Regions from separate parts of the Homo sapiens genome. Here region 2 is linked to region 1. A link means that fine-mapping ties the variant in region 1 to the expression of a gene that starts in the linked region. Tissue or cell type: esophagus mucosa. Region 1 holds a variant in brackets; the other region holds the start of a gene. All regions are shown on one strand. Distances are between the middles of the regions.

Region 1 (8,340 bases):
CATGCCTGTAATCCCAGCTACTCGGGAGGCTGACGCAGGAGAATTGCTTGAACCTGGGAGGCAGAGGTTGCGGTGAGCCGAGATCGTGCCATTGTACTCCAGCCTGGGCAACAAGAGTGAAACTCCGTCTCAAAAAAAAAAAAAAAACAAAAACAAAAACAGAAAACTAAGGAATAATAACTACAAGATCATGTCACAGAAGTAAGGTGCTGGGCACGGTGGCTCACGTCTATAATCCCAGCATTCTGGGAGGCCGAGGCGGGTGGATCACTAGGTCAGGAGATCGAGACCATCCTGGCCAACAATGGTGAAACTCCGTCTGTACTAAAAATACAAAAATTAGCTGGGTGTGGTGTCATGTGCCTGTAACCCCAGCTATTTGGGAGGCTGAGGCAGGAGAATTGCTTGAACCTGGGAGGCAGAGATTGCAATGAGCCGAGATCACACCAGCACTCCAGCCTGGCAACAGAGTGAGATTCCATCTCAAACAAACAAACGATACTGACAGAAGGACAATTTTTAGGTATAATATGAATTACCAAAATTGCCACAAATAGAAGTAGAAACACTGAATAGATGAATTGATTAGAGAAAACAATCTGACAACAACAAATAGAAACAACAACAGCAAAAATCTTTAAAAGTTATAAAAGTATTATCTGGTTCAAAAAATAATCCCGATACAGAGAATTTCAGAGAAAAAAAAATTGCCCATGAAAATATAATTTCCATAGGTGCAGAACACAGAAAATGATAAAATCTTTCTAATCATTACATAAAGTTTACATAATTTTGATATCAAAACTAATAAGATAGCATAAAAATTCAACTAAAGACCAAATCATTAGGAAAATTGATACAATAATCTCAAACAAATATGGAATACAGCAGTAAGTTAAGAAAACATTTCATCAGGGCCAAGTAGGCTTTGGTCCAAGAATAAAAAGATGATTAAATATTAGGAAATCTGTAATTATAGTGCACCATTTTAATAGATCAAAGGCAAAACTTATGCAATAATTCAAAAGAAACTATGATACTCCATATCAAGTCTGGTGTTAAACACATTATAAATAATTCTTACTGGATACTCATAATATCCTCACAAGATATTTACATGATTATCTTCATATTACAGAGTAAGAGACTGAAATTCGAAGGGAATAAATAAATTGCTTAATGTTACACAATTCTAAGAGGAGGAGGTATAATTTGACTCCAGCTCTGTCTGGCCATAAATCCCATACTCTGGCTTCCATATTATATTCTCCTCATGGATGATAATTTACCAAAATCATCCAAAAGGCATTTTATAGTATTCCAAAACCCATTTTTTTAATTTTAAAAATTCTCAGCATATTAGGAATGCAAAAAAATTTCTTTAACATGGTTAGAAAAAAATCTATCATCAAATAAATAGCTGTTAAAATCAGAAACAAGATAAGAGTAGAATGCCAGTGAGTATTTTGAACTTTGCTGTGGAAATTCTGGCTAATGTTATAGGACATAATCAACAAAGAAGAGATACATTATTTGGAAAGATGATAGAATCATTTTTTGATTATAATATAATTGTTTATAAATAAAACTCAGGAGAACTAAGTGAAAAATAATTATCATTAACAAACAGAATCAAAAGACAAAATACTAAAAGCAATAGCTTTCATATAACAGTAACCACCAATTAGAAAACAGTATCTTAAATAATCTCAAAAATAATTAAATAAAAAGTATCTAATACCTAGGAATAACCTTAAAAAGAATGCAGGACCTCTACAAATAAATGATTTTTTTGTCATATCACATAAGACTTGAAAAAGAGATATTTTGAAATTATTGAAAATTGTGAAGATGCAAACTTTTCCAAAATAATTCATAATTTGCACATAATTCTATACAAAGTACAACAAGTTTTGTTTTGTTTTTTGAGATGGAGTTTCGCTCTTGTTGCCCAGGCCAGAGTGCAATGGCATGATCTCGGCTCACTGCAACCTTGTGCCTTCCGGGTTCGAGCCTCTCAAGTAGCTGGATACAGGCGTGTGCCACCATGCCTGGCTAATTTTGTATTTTTAGTGGAGATGGGGTTTCACCATGTTGGTCAGGCCGGCTTGAACTCCTGACCTCAAGTGATCCACCTTCCTCAGCGTCCCAAAGTGCTGGGATTACAGGCATGAGGCACCGTGCCCGGTCCAAGATTTTTTAAATTTGAAAATTAATTCCAATACTCACCTTAAAGAATGCTGAGACAATAACTGCTAAAATAAATTTAAAATACAGAAAAATGAAAGAGTTAGGGGCCACCATGTCAGAAACAGGCTATAATACAAATTATAATGGGATATATAAACTATAATATGGTTCTGCTACAATAATTAATAGATGGTTACAGAAATAGAGAGCCCAGATACAGAAATGTATATACCAATTAAAAGATAGATTTAATCAAAAAGTCAGTGAAGAAAAGAGCACTTATTTAATAAATGGCATTGAATTAACTATTTGAATAATTTAAAATGTATGTTGCTATCTCATACTATATGTTAAAATAAAGACAGATAAATGTTATGTTAAATTTTAAAATAAAATAATAAAGGATTATGTAAAATACAGGTGGTTATTTATCAGCTATTGAGCCTAGCAAAATAATTTCTAAACATAAAGGTAGTGAAATGTGTCAGAGAGTAATAGTAGATTTGACTGGAGTAGCAAAGGTGAAACACATTTATATATCAGAGAGCAGAATACTCAAAAGGCAAACACCAAACTGGAAAAATAATTTCCAGAGACATAACACGCAAAGGTAGTTCATAAGCAAAATATTAACATCTCAATGGATAAATGGGCAAAGAACACAGATCAACAAGTTACCAAAAATCCTTATAATTATCCAATAAGCATTCAAAATTTTTAAAATTTTTTTTAAAAAACTAATGCTTAATGCTGTTGAATGTGAGGAGAAATAGTCACGACACAGAGAGTAGGTGTGTAAATTAATATCTTTGGCCACATCGATGAAGAATCATAAAAACGTCCATGCCCTTTGATTGCCTCTCCTAGGAACTGTCCAATAGAAACAATTAAGAAGGTGAAAAAAGATGTAATGCAAAACTATTCAAGGCCGTATCATTCATTCTAGGCAGAAGCATAAACATTCAACCATAGACGTACATCCAAAAGTGCAATATTATACAGTCATTGAATAATCATGTTTTGAAAAATATTTAATGTCATGAGAAAATTTTCCTAGTCAAGTGAACATAAGTAAGATATAAAACTTTGTCCAGACCATAATTGTGATTCTGTGATGTAACCATATATGCAGAGAAAAAAACTGGAAGAAAATATGCCAAAATGTTACAGCAGCTATCTCTGAATACTAAGGTAGGCAATTTTTATTTTATACACTGAATATCAGAATAAAATTTATTAAAGAATAAAAACAATACTGTCATGAGAAATCAGAAGCTGGACACACTGGTCATGACCTTCTAAGGATGTAAGGAAGCCTTCGCCTTTTATGTTCCTCTAATTTTACTCCATGATCTCACAGGGAAATGAGTGGAGCAAGTGGCTCATCAGCCACCTTGGCCTCTGAAAAGAATTGTCCCAGAAGCCATCTCTCTATCAAACCTGGCTAATTTCTTCTCTCCTCCTTCAGCTCTGGCCTCTTCCTGCTCACCTCTGCCAATCTCCTTTCCTTCCACTCAAAGTCTGGCCACAACAAAAAAGAAAGCAGGTTTGGAGAGAGGTCAGTATGCTGGGTTATTGTCAAAGGAGTTATGTGTGTTTGTGTGTTTCTGCAAAAGTGCATTCTGCTGCTGCTAAATTGTCATTCCATACACTATCTACATTGGAAAGATCTTTCTCAAAAAAAAAAAAAAAAGAAAGAAAGAAATATACTTTTGAAAATTCCTGCAATGCCTACTGTGACAGTGACATCAGAAGTCTATTTGTTCTTCACAAGTATAATTCATGGAGCTTTATTGAAACCATATCATTTGATCACTCAACAATATTCAGCAAATCTTTGTGGGGTGCTCTCTATGGTTCTGGGAAATATAATGTGAGAGTGGGCGGCTGAATCATGGTCCTCAGAGATGTCCATAGCTTTATCCTGAAACTTGTGAATAAGTTACTTCCTATAGCAATACTTACACATGTGATTGAGGTAAGGATCTTGAGACAGGGAGCTTATCCTGCAATATTTGGGTGGGCCCAAATAATCACAGAGATCTTTACAAGGAAATAGGCAGAAGAGTCAAGATAGTTGTTGTCCTTGCAAAGTATTTTTTGCAACTTCCCAGTCTCCCATCATTACCGGGGACACAGTTATGCAAATATAGCCTCCATTTTTATAAGAAATGAAGGAATTAAAAAATAGAAGTAGATGAAAACTATTTAGCAACATATATTTTAATTATAAAATTAGGAGGCACAGATTCCCCTTTCCAATTAGTTTTTAAGTCAAATCAATCAAATTTCAAAGAGCAGTTATGCATTTATTTTTAAAATTTAATTAGGAAGAAATTCGAAGCAATTAATGAATGTTATCAATTATAATGCATTACCATGAGAAAACCCCAACAACCCTTAAGTATGATTGAATATTTTGTACTCTGTAATGATGAACTAGGCTTAGCCATTTAAAAAAATTAACTCCTGAGCTTAAAATAATCTCAA[C/A]AAGTCAAACAGGTCTAAGTGAACCTGCAGTGAACCTAGGAGAGAACTTTCTCATGCTACACCCTTCTTTGCAGTAATGGGAGGGTTTGATCTCAGAGGGAATACCTTTGTTTCATCGTGTCCTGTTAATATATTAATAAGTTCAATTGCCAGCTGTTCATTTTCATGATGACACAGGGATATCTTTATTTCTATTTATCCTGTATATAATCAGGGGCACCATGACCCTCTTCTTTGAAATGAATGATTTCAAGCTTAATGGAAATTTAAAGTACTATATAGCAAAACTCTATGATCTGAGTCCTGGAGGGGAAGGGGTGAGTAGACATTAGATAATAAATCCCCAATGAAAGCCAAGAGAACTCGAGAAAGCCTGACCATTTTGGTCCATAAAATGTGTCAGGGGTCAGTGCTCTGCAAATGGGAGGAGATGGGGAATGAAGGTTTCATAATTTAGTGATCACCCAAATGGTATCGGAGGAGTTTGAACTATAAAGAGAAAAGTAGTTGCCTCTTGCTGACCACCAAGATTGCTACAGGTTTCAAGGAAAGAGAGCGCTAGTCATCACGACCACTTCATTTGGTAATTATTTATGAAGTACCTTCCTGCCCTTGATGACGAATTCTTTCTTTCTTTGAAACCTGTAGCGATCTTGTTGGTCAGCAAGAAGCAACTACTTATTTCTTTATAGTTCAAACTCTTATGATACAGTTGGGTGACAACTGAATTATGAATCCTTCTTTCCACATGTGCCATTTGCAGAGCACTGACCCCTGACACATTCCAAGTACAGAAATGGTCAGACTCTCTTGAGTTCTCTTGGTTTTCACTGGCGATTTATCATTAAGGATGTAAGTATAACTTAACTTTAAAAAAGACTCGCATATATGAAAAAATCAGCATAATCACATAGAAACGCAATTCAGGGATCAAAATGCTATTTTTAAAAAATCTTTTAAAAGTCTCCATTGTAAAAATGATTACTGCTCAACTCTGAGAAAAGTAATGATACCAAAAGAGGTTAACCAGAATGAAATGTACAATGTTGGTAATTAATGATTACTTTAGATAACTATGTAAACATTTTTTCAGAGGCACTTGCTATCAATTAGGAAAGCTACAATACACAGATAAGCAGGCCTTGTCCTGGTTTGTTCCATCGGCTAGAGAAGCAGCCTTTAGCTAGGGGTCTTTATTAAAAAGACTTGTATACCTCCCATCTTGACAACCTAAAAGTTCATTCTCTGAACATAAACACAACCCATTAAGTACCTGTCATGAGGTTATTACAAAACATATAAAAATATAAAACTTGGTCTTTGCACATTTATAACAGATTCAGGTTGTTTGGCTAAATGTACATTAAATGTTCAAGAGTCAGCAAGTTCTGGGTATGAAAACTAATATTTAAACAGAGAAATGCCTTTTCTGAGAAAGAAAACCCCTGCCACTGGCTTTGGAGAGTAAGAACACAAGCCAGCAGATGACAGGGAAGGACTCTATGCCACTAGTTAAAAATAAATGACAGAGAAGCCCATGCAAAAGCAGGCCAGAAAGATGCGAATTTAGAGAATGGCAAACAAAACAGCCAAAATAAGGTCAAGGACAGATGTAAGACAGAAGGAAGTCAAAGCAGGAATGGCTTGAGTTTGAAGGCAAAGGCAGAATTCTGAATTTGACAGAGGGAGTGATGGGCAGCCATGTGGCTAGTTAGAGGGTGATTTAAAGTTGGCCAATGAAAGACAAAGTATGAAAGGGAAAATCAGTTCTTCAGAAATGATTATTAAAAATTCTTGAAGGCAAGCTACTTACAGCCATATTTCAGTACAAGCATGGTGAACACTGTATACCAATATAAGGAGTGTTCCTTATTTTAAATCTGTTCTCATCTATTTTCATGGATTTCACATATATATGACCCATTTCTGACAGCAGGGAAGGTCACTTTCATATTAATATTCAATATGTCACACCACTGTCATATCAACTATCCTCAGGCAGGTCTGATGGCTGGTTGACAGAAATGGGCATTTTGAGAGGAAATTCCCAGAACCAAGTAACCCAGCTGGAGAATACCGCTGCAGGAAAGACAGCAGTACTATATATTAACTCAGCAGGGAAAACAGCTAAATTGTTCTTCCTGCTTATTAATAGACCAACATTTAGTCCAACAGCTCTAATTTTCTGTGGAATTTTTGACTTTCTCTCTTGAAAACTGAAAGTCATGTTAATGGTTTTCTGCATAATGCTTGTCTGTATGGTTTAGGGATATGAGGGAAGATTTTTTCAAAATAGGGAAGCCGGTCCAAAGAATATTAGCCTTATCTTTTCCCTAAATACTATATATGTGAGACTATCTTAATTCAAAGGAGGCGATATAGTGAAAAGCTTTTCTGTGCTAGTTTTAGTAATAACTTGTAATAATGGGAAAAAAAGAAGATTAAGTTTGAGTGAATAATAGGACGCTAAAAAAGAAGATACTAACTTGGCTCTTAAGTTTTTAGTGGGACTTACTGCTTTGATTTATAAGCAATAATCATAGAGGCAGAAATGAGACAATCTAGCATCTAAGCATTCAAATGAACATTTTAAGAATTAATGAGGAAGGAAGGAAAGGAGGGAAGAAGGAGGAAGGGGAGAAGGAAGAAAGGAGGGGAGTTAGCCGGGAAGTAAACAGAGGGAAGAAGGGAGAGAGAAGGAAGGAAACTAGACACTCTTAAAGAAAGCATCATAACTTAATATTTAAGATTCTTATTTTATACAATTAAAAATCTCGTTTAATTATTTAAGAAAGAAAACTTCCACAGGTATAATGTACAACTGTACCTTAGAGACCATGTGATATGTATTCATAGTCTGAAAAGTCTTTGTATTTATTCTTGGGAAATAAGGACTACACACTCAAAAAGAAATTCCTGCAGAGAGGCAGGTAAATGGACAGCACGATTTACAGTAGACCTCACATTTACACATTGGCAACCCTCACAAAAGCTGATATGCCCTGACGTTTATTTCCTCTGAACATTTACTTACGAGTGTCAAAGTCTGAAAGAAACCTCATTACAAAAAGTGACATTTTATCTCCATTTGTGCATTTATGAACGTATTCTACATTTTTCTGAAGTGTTATTTATTCTTTACTTTAAAAATGTACTACCCAATTTATCTATGAGGTCTTTCAGTCTCAATTCATGACAACCTTTGTACTTACTGTTCCTAAAAACTCAAAGACGAGTTTCTGAGCTTTGTAATAAAGAACTTCATTCTGCTGTACAAATTAAACCAGGTGTAGGTAAACCAGTGTAGGTAAATGAAAAACTGGGGTTAAAAAGAAAAAGATGCCAATCTATAGTAGGCTCAGCTTTTTTTTGAGAGAGAGATTAAGGTGCATACAGTCAACTGGTGTGAAGGTCACCAAACAAAATGTTGCAATCTTAAAGTGCCACTGACATGCAGTCAGTGTGCTGCAGCAGCTCAGGATTAATCCATGCAGCTCTTTCTCCTTCCTTGCTATTGTTTCAGAATCCTTCATAAATGTGCATTATGAAGTCTGTTATATTTGCAGGAAAACATTCTAAAAATTAGACAAATTTTTCTTCAAATTGAAATAAAAATATGTAAATAATATAACTTTTAAAAATTTGGTTTCCCACACCCAG
Region 2 (8,340 bases), 48 kb after region 1:
CTTGGCTACTACTAAGAAGCTCAGAGCCAAATTAAATACTCTAAAGCAGTAAGCACTTAGGATTGTAGTTTAATTATCTTCCCTCCTCTACAAGATTTTGATCTTTCTTCCCCTCCCATTTTTAACAGTCTGATTTTGTGAAATTTTTACTATGCATTTACTCAGCACACTTATGAAAGTCAATACTCTAGACACAAAAACAAATCACCATAATCTTCAATTATAATTTCCTTTTGCTCTCAATTGGCAAGAGTTTCCATGAATAACTAATTTGAAGATGACTCCTTTGATATTATGCTCTGGTCACTTGAAAACTCAAATAATGCAATATTTCCCACCATCATTTGGTTCAGAATACTTTTATGAAGCGGCAAAAGAGGGCAAAAAGAGGCTGGCTGACTTAACTAATAACATATGATAACCATCAGGTTATTTTCAAAGCTATCACCAAGACCTATTTATTTCTATCTTGTGTTGGATCCTGACCATTACATTTTGCCCCCTCACCAACCACCACTTTTGCAGCCCAAATTGTACCACCATGCACTGGTTGGTCCACTTAGGGCTGCCATTGCCAGAGGCACTGCCAGGACCTGCTGAGTGAGAAGACACTGCCATCACCCAGTGAAGTCTAGTCCCTGGAATTTCACTCTTAGCACTGGCAATGCTTCTGGAACTCATAAAGATTCTGCTGAAATTCAGGGAGTTGAAGGTCAATGTCTTCCAGGGATCAAGGTAACATGTCAGAAAAATTCTGCTGCTGAGGATTTCCATGTATTCAAGGCAAATGCCCTTAGGAGGAACTCGCAGAAATAGCTCTTTGCATTGTCACTACACAGAATGGAAGACCAGCTTTTATTTCGAAAAGAAAGAGAGAGAGAGAAAAATAAAGAGTGAACCATATAAGCATGGAATGTGTGCAACACACACATACACATGCACACACAGAATAGATCTTGGCATGCCCAACTGGCACCCACTTAGGATGTGTAGTCAGGTATTTTTGAGAACATAATATTTGGACACAATCATTAATTTATTCACCAAAGAGTTATCCAGCACCTACTGTGTGCCAAGTATTGTTCTAGATGCTGGAAAATAAGAGTGAGTGAGGCAGTCAAGAGTCCTGTGCTCATGGATTCGATATTCTAGGCAAGGATACAGGCGATCAACAAGCATCAATTGAAATGAACAATTCAGATTGCAAATACAATAAAGGAAAGAAAAAGAAGAACAAAACAAACAAACAAAGAGAAAAACCAGTGTGATGGGTCTGAAAAGGAATGAGGGACCGCCTTTGCTCAAGTGGTCAGGGAAGGGCTTTCTAAGAAGGTGACACGTAATCTTACACTAGAATGAGAAGACCAGGGCGAAGAAACCAATCACCTTTACTCTGATTTCCATCAAAAAGATGGGCTTACTAAAAAAAGAAACATGCAATACCATTTGTGGCTCCACACAACTCATGCTTTAAACAACTGCAAAAACCCCAGGAGAGGAAAGGAATCCACAGCTTTCTCTGCTTTTAAGGCGATTTTAAGAAATCACCTTTCCCAAAGATAATGGATTAAAAAGTTGTCTTAATTCATCTCTAATTATGGCAGAATTTACTACAAAGAAACTGAAAGGAGATACATGGAATATTCATTCCTCTACATAATGTCAGTTGCTTTATGTAACAATATTCCAATGTCAATAAAAGTATACCTTTGCATTGTAATGCCAACAGGAATTATTTCACTTTAAAAAACCAGTTCTGTAGCTATACTCAGTATTATTTATTTTTCACTGGCTATAAAATAAAGCCAAACTGTATTTACTAGCAGATGGTCTCACTTCCAATATATAATAAACCTCTGAGATCAGGTAAAAATAGATTCTGTTAGTATTTCTTTAACATGCTCAAATTATAAATGATCGTTCACCAATGTCTTTGTATAAAACACTCCAAACAAATCACTTGGTACTGGATTTCTGTTTGACTCAATTAAAACACTTAGCCACCTGGCATGAAAACATCCTAAAAACATCAACTGCTTAAAATACTTTGCACTGAAACACGTTTTTCATTGTTTCCTAGCCTCTGACTGATTTCGGAATTAGAAAGAATTAAGCAGAAGTGAATTGGGGAGCAGGTCAGTCACTGAATATTCAGAATGAATCATGAACACGTTAAAATGCAATTTTTATTTCTTTGCAGTGCATTGCATGCTATACATTCTTACAATTTAAATAAGCATACTAAACTAAAGCCAAATAATGTGAAGATTGCCCAACAGGTCTACATTACCTAATACATTTATCATTATATAAACTGCTGTGCTTGATATTAATACACTGTGCAAGGAATGCTTAATTTCTTGAACTTCCACACAGGTCTTTAAAACTGAATCTCACTAGTACCCAAGACCAATAATGTGCTGAGGAAGAAGGTATTTCAAATATATTTACTGATTACACAGTGTTTGAATCTTCAAAAATTCTAAATTTATGTGGACAAAGGAGAATGGAGAATCTGAACTTGGCTGTTCATGCAAACTCTTTCCTTTCTTTGACTCACTTTATGAATTGTTATGTTTCTAGATCCTTCTTTTAAAATTTTCCATTTGGGGAAACTTGTACATTTAAAAAAAATTCATCTCATTTTCTCCCTCCCCCTCCTTAAAATAAATAAGAAGGCTTAAGAATTAACACTAATAATAATCCCACAATGGTCATTGGGAAATCCTCCCCCAAAGTGACAACTGCCGCTAAGAAGGGCAAAATCCACTAAGAATGAAAATTCCCCCAAATGAGTCCTTCTCCGAGGGGGTGGAGGTCACACAGTTGGCACAATTGGTATCACAACCAACTCGAGGAGACCCAGAGGAAGATGCTGCGCCAAGAGAAGCAAAGCGAAGGAGCGCGACCCAGGAGGCTAGCGAAATCCCCGCCAAGCCCCCAGGAGGCGGAGAGAAGCCCAGTCGCCAGGCACCGGCCACGGCGCACGCCAACATCCAGGATAATTCTCCTTTCCAAGCCCGGGAGTTCCGGGGCAGGCGAAAAAGGGGGGATGGGAGACCCACAGTCCCTTTAACCCTCCCCCCTGGCCTGCCAACCTTTTCCGAACCCCCATGTCACACAACTTCCTCATCATGGAAACTTCCACTGGGTTCGGCGCTGAGGATGCCAAACTCCATTTCACAAGGAACATGTCAACAGCTGGGCTTGGGGTTTGAGGAACAGAGCCGCTGCGATTGGAACAGAGCCCGGCCACCCTGTTCCACCACTGTCCACTCCGTAGCTCCCAGCCTGCCGCCGCGCGGTGCCCGAACACGAGAGGGCACCTCCTCCCAGATCCGGGGCGCAGAAGCCCCGCGGAGGCAGGTAATCAGGCTGATGACACCCCCACCACCCACGCTCACCCGCCTGCCCGCCCGCGCGCGCTCGGCTTAGCCGCCCGCACCCCTCCGGGTTCTTGCGACGCTCCGTCACCATCCCGCCCACCCTGTGGACAGTTGGAACTGTCGCCCCCTCCTCCTCTCACCCCGCTGCCTCCGCGCGGTCCTCTAGCCAAATTACCAGTGCCCTGGAGCCGGTTGGGTTGAGCGCCCCTGCCCGGGGAAGGTAGCCTGCGGGCTCTTGCCCCGAGCCCGCGGAGCAGGAGGTCTCTTTTCCAAGCGCACTCACATTATTCATGCAAAGTTAATCCCCGCCGCGTCACGGCCGCCCGCCCGAGGATGTGCGCCTTCCTTGGCCAAGCCCCGCAGTCTCCACCCTCCTCCGCCCCCTCCTCCCGGCGGCGGGGTCCCGGGGAGCGCCGGCGACTGGGCGTCGCGCGAGTCCTGCAAAATGTCAACTCCTTGGGCGAAGAGAGGCGGCCGCAGCCAGGGCCGCGCCGCACCTCCCCGGTCTCTCCACTTTTATAGGCGTAGGAAGCTACTGCGGCTGGGGCACCAGAGTCCCCGCCTCTCCGGGTCCCCCGCGTGCCCGGCCCGCCCCGGCCCGCTTCCCGGGCGCTGTCTTACTCCGGGCCCGGGGCGCCTGCTCCGCGCCGCGTCTGCGAACCGGTGACCTGGTTTCCCCTCCAGCCCTCACGGCTGTCCGACTTGCGCGGCGGTGGCGGCGGCGGCCAAGAGCAGGCAAACCCGGCTCCGCCAGGGGCGCAGCGAGGAAATGGCCTCCTGGCGCACACCCCGCCGCCGCCGCCAGCCATCGCCACCGCCCCGGGCTGCCCAGCCGGTACAGACGCCCCCTGCCAGGCTCCGGGCCAGCGCTCCGACGCGCTCACAGCGCCCGGCTTGCCGACCCCGACCCCGACCCCGAGTCCTACGCACTCGAGGTCCCCGGGCCGGCCGCCTCCGCACCTGCCTCCCCAGGTGTGGGCGCTCCCCCTCCTCCTAATCCCGGCCGTGCCCTCCCAGGGTTGGTGACGGTGCTGTGGGTTTGGTGGCCGCGCGTCCACCCACCCGATTGCCTGCGCGCATAGGTGCGGGTTTGGGCGTCATTACTCTAGTTGGAGAAGAGGAAAGAATGGGGAACGAGTGACACCGGGACCGGAGGGCGAGTCTTCCAGGAGCACGTCTCGGCCTTCTTTGCCCGGCCCGACCGGCCCGACCCGTGCCGCAGCGCTCCTCCCTCCGCTCCTAAACCACTTGTGGCGCGTGTCGGGAATACAGGGCGCTCTGGCTCTTCTTGGGGCCTCCGCTGGTCCGACCATCTGGCAGCTCTCTTAACCACCACGGCCACCCCACGAATGGAAGTTTGGGACGTGCCTGGGTTGCCCTTAAGGAGGACACCCCCGCCCCCACCGCCATTATGCATATCGTGGGAGAGGCGCGTACAGGGCTGAGACACTCCTCAGGTCCCAGAACGGCCGCCCTATTAATTTGTCTTTGCCCTGGAAATGTATAGATAAAACCAGGAAGACAAAAATAATGTATACTCTTCAAGAGATCTTTCCCGGGCAAATATAGGTCTCTCAAATGCCCCCGACCTTAAGTCCTGGAGACCAGGAAGAGACTTGCTTTCTGAGCTAGAAGGATACTTGGGAAATACCGAGTCCTCACTCAGCTAAAAGGTAGTCAATAAGGAACTATAGTTGCAACAAAACTACTTTGACAACAGAGTACAATTAATTTCTTATAGACAGTATTAAAATAATTCCGACATCATAATTTAATATTCACATCTATTCGTGTAACACGCAGTATAATAGAGTTATGACGATATGGATCCTCAGCTGCCTGACAATGTATAGGTTATTTATTGGAAGGTTCTCTAGATTTCCAGCCAGTGACATGTATGTTTTATTCTCGCTTCTTCTGAGCGTCCCAGGGAAAGGGGTGAGAGGCCCCCCACCCCTGCTGACAGCATTAACAACCACCCCGCTGGATAAGCAGGGTTTCACTGATGCACTTTTAAGAAAGTTGCAGGCCCCAGAGACCCCATTTCCCTTTGGTCCTCGGTGAGAAGTCCGTGCTTTCTTCTCTACTCTTAATAAGTCTGCACCATAGGACTTGCAGGCTTCTGTAGTTGGAGAGCTGTTCTCCTTTGCAGGGAAGTTCCTGGGCTTTGCTCCAAAGCTGCCCCGGAATGTTTTGGTTGGTTTGGAGAAAAGCTGTGGCGTCTACACCACTTGTTCCAAGCAGGCGGCCCCCTGGTGGCTAACGGGGGGTGAGAAAGCTGGCCACTGAGGAAGAAGTCTGGCGCAGGTAGGCCCCAACAGTTGACAACCTAGTCTTCGGGTCTTCTTCACAGCGTGTGAACAGCTTAGTATTACCGCGGGGGGGCGGGAGGGGGTTGGGGGGTGGTGAGGTGAAGCAAATCTTCCTTCAACACGGTGGATCATGGGCTTCTCGGCCTACTGGAACTTTTAATTTTTTTCTCTTCCTGAGTATAACTTGGAGCTAAATTATTTAAGAAGGAGACATACAGAGGACAAAATGAAATGTAACAAAAACTGTTGCTTCTCTTTGTTCAAGGGCTTTGTCTTTCTGATCTCATTTTGCCCAGAAAATTCAGAAATGAGCCAATTAAAGCATGAAATAAATAAAGGGCGTGGCATTATTCAAACAATCCATGAGACTGTGGTAGTAACAATGTTCTACAACAATGGGGGAGGGCAGTTTTACTGCAATGTTAATGATAACGTGAACTACTAGGGTTCCATTTTGAACAGGACCTCTGAGGGCTGTCCTACAGGCTGCATGATGATGGTAAAGAAGGGTTACCAAGAGATCATGTCATTTATTTTTCTGGTTTTACACAAGGTAGGACAATGGAGGAGAATGTCATGATGACTTGATTGAAGGAAGAACATTTATTCAAACTTTAGATTATGTGGTCATGTGTTCCAGCTGACTTGAGAGGGCACACCAAGGCTGTTTCCAGGACCCATTCCCATATTTCACCATAGACATCCTCATTACCAGGATCTATACCTTTAAGCTGATGACTCAGTTCAAGAAAGCAATTCATTCATATATTTATTTATTTAGCAACTACTGGTGTAAGAAAATGAATGAAACAGAACCTCATAGGGCTCGGATTGGGCAGAAGTGAGTGAGGCCAGTGATACAAGTGCAGGGTCTGAGCCTGCCTTTATTTAAAATTTTGATGTATTGTTCATCATGAATAATTGTTGCATTAATTTTGATTTTTAAAATAGTGCATTAAAATATTTCTCCTGATTTACTGAGGCTTTTTTTTTTTTCTTTTTTGGCATCCCCTTAAATTTCACACCAGGGATGAGTGCCTCACTTGCCTAAACCTAGTCCCTGCCCTGCTATGCCCTCAGTGTTACCAGAGTCTTTTCAGAGAAGCAAAGTTCAAGTTAGAATGTCCTAGATGTCAAAGATAATTAATATATAGTGAAGGATTTGGGGTCAGGGAGTTAGAGACGTGGGCGTGAGGGGAGGGAAAAATCAGGGAAGATTTCATGGAAAATGGTGGCACTTGAACCAATCCATCAAAGATGGACCACATTTTGCCAGGGAGTATTGGGACTGGAACCCCTGGTATTGTTTTGCTTATTCAGCTACTTCTCAAGCTGGCTGTGCAGCCACCTGACCTAGCCCTGGAGATTCTGCTTCTGTCTGTTCATTGTTAGTTCTTGGAACTTATTTTTTCTATGAGGGCTCCAGTGATTCTGGTCCATAGCAGCTGGGTAAGAACTCCAACCCTTCAGGAAAGACAGCTTCTTGGGGAAGATGACAGGGTCAAAATTATCTAATTCAAGTACACTCTAATTCACAGCACAAAACTAACTTTTTTATTTCATATCTTGATATATGCCCGTTTTTACCAACACTCTGCCTTTGGCTTACTTTTGAATAAAGGAGACCAGAAAGGAAAAGGAACTATAGGTTGCCTTATCTTTCTCTTTCCTTCTATGTCATCATTTTCAAACTAAGTGGTTACAGAGAAGTATTAACATAAGAAAAGACAGAGAAAGTTTCCTTGGTTGTTACCTTCTTTTTGCATTCAAATCAGGCTTTGGTTGGAATGGAAAGCGTGGCAAACCCCATTTTGGGGTTGTCAGTGTCCTCACTTAGTCATTGATGTGACATGCTTACCTCATACTCAATTTGAGTTTTGCAGAACTCCCACACATTGTGTGCCCACAGGGATTCTGTGCTTATGGGGCAACAAGAATGCTATGTGTGAGTGGAACAAGTAAAGAATGGCAGCAGCTATGCATGTTATCTGTATTTCCTCTGTTCATGCACATGCTCCATTGTCCCATCAGCCTTCATTTACAAAACAAAAGTTCAAAGATAAAATTATTAGGAATTTCATTACGGTGACAACAGAGCATTAAATGAAGTGCCAGGCCTCAAGCACCAAGCCCTTCCCAGCATGGGTTGTATGCAGCTGTCCAGATCACATGCCCATGAAGCTGGCCATGGGGAAAAAACTTGATCCTTTATTGTGGTAGAAGCATAGGGCATGTTGGAGATGCAGTAGACATGCTGGCATGGCTGGTTATAGCAAGGAGTACATAACATAGCTAACATGTATTAGACATGTATTATGTTTTACGTACTGTCCTAAATATTTCATACATCTTTTAAAGTTTGCCAGAGGACCCTGTGAAACAGTATTATTATGTACTTCATTTTCCAGATGTTAAAAATTAGGAAGATCAAATAATCTGCTCAAGCTCAGGCCTGGGTACTGGGTGACAGAGGGTATACTCTTAACCAGCTCATCATGCTACCTGCATGCAACACAAGGAGTTATTGGATAGGCACATGAGGCTGGAAAAGGTGAGCATGTTCTGGCAGTCATGAGACATCTCTCTAGCCCTTCATTTAAGGAACTACTGTGCACCGGGACGATCAGAAGAGCCCTAAAGAA

What was found. PIP is the estimated chance that this variant, and not a neighbour inherited with it, causes the effect.
Region 2: THRB starts here. The variant in region 1 is fine-mapped to the expression of THRB in esophagus mucosa (GTEx, PIP above 0.99).

Annotation. Positions count from the first base shown.
Region 1 is chr3:24,442,694-24,451,033 of GRCh38, forward strand. The region is part of intron 1 of THRB (thyroid hormone receptor beta); the gene reads right to left. Among named protein-coding and RNA genes, the nearest start is that of THRB-AS1, 47 kb to the right of the region's middle. The variant C/A (reference allele first, on the strand shown) is at 4,681.
Region 2 is chr3:24,491,126-24,499,465 of GRCh38, forward strand. It overlaps THRB (thyroid hormone receptor beta), which reads right to left and starts at 3,725. Exons shown (of 11, transcript NM_001354712.2): 1 at 3,527-3,725. THRB-AS1 (THRB antisense RNA 1) reads left to right here and starts at 2,962. Exons shown (of 2, transcript NR_046244.1): 1 at 2,962-3,366. RefSeq lists a silencer at 5,503-5,708.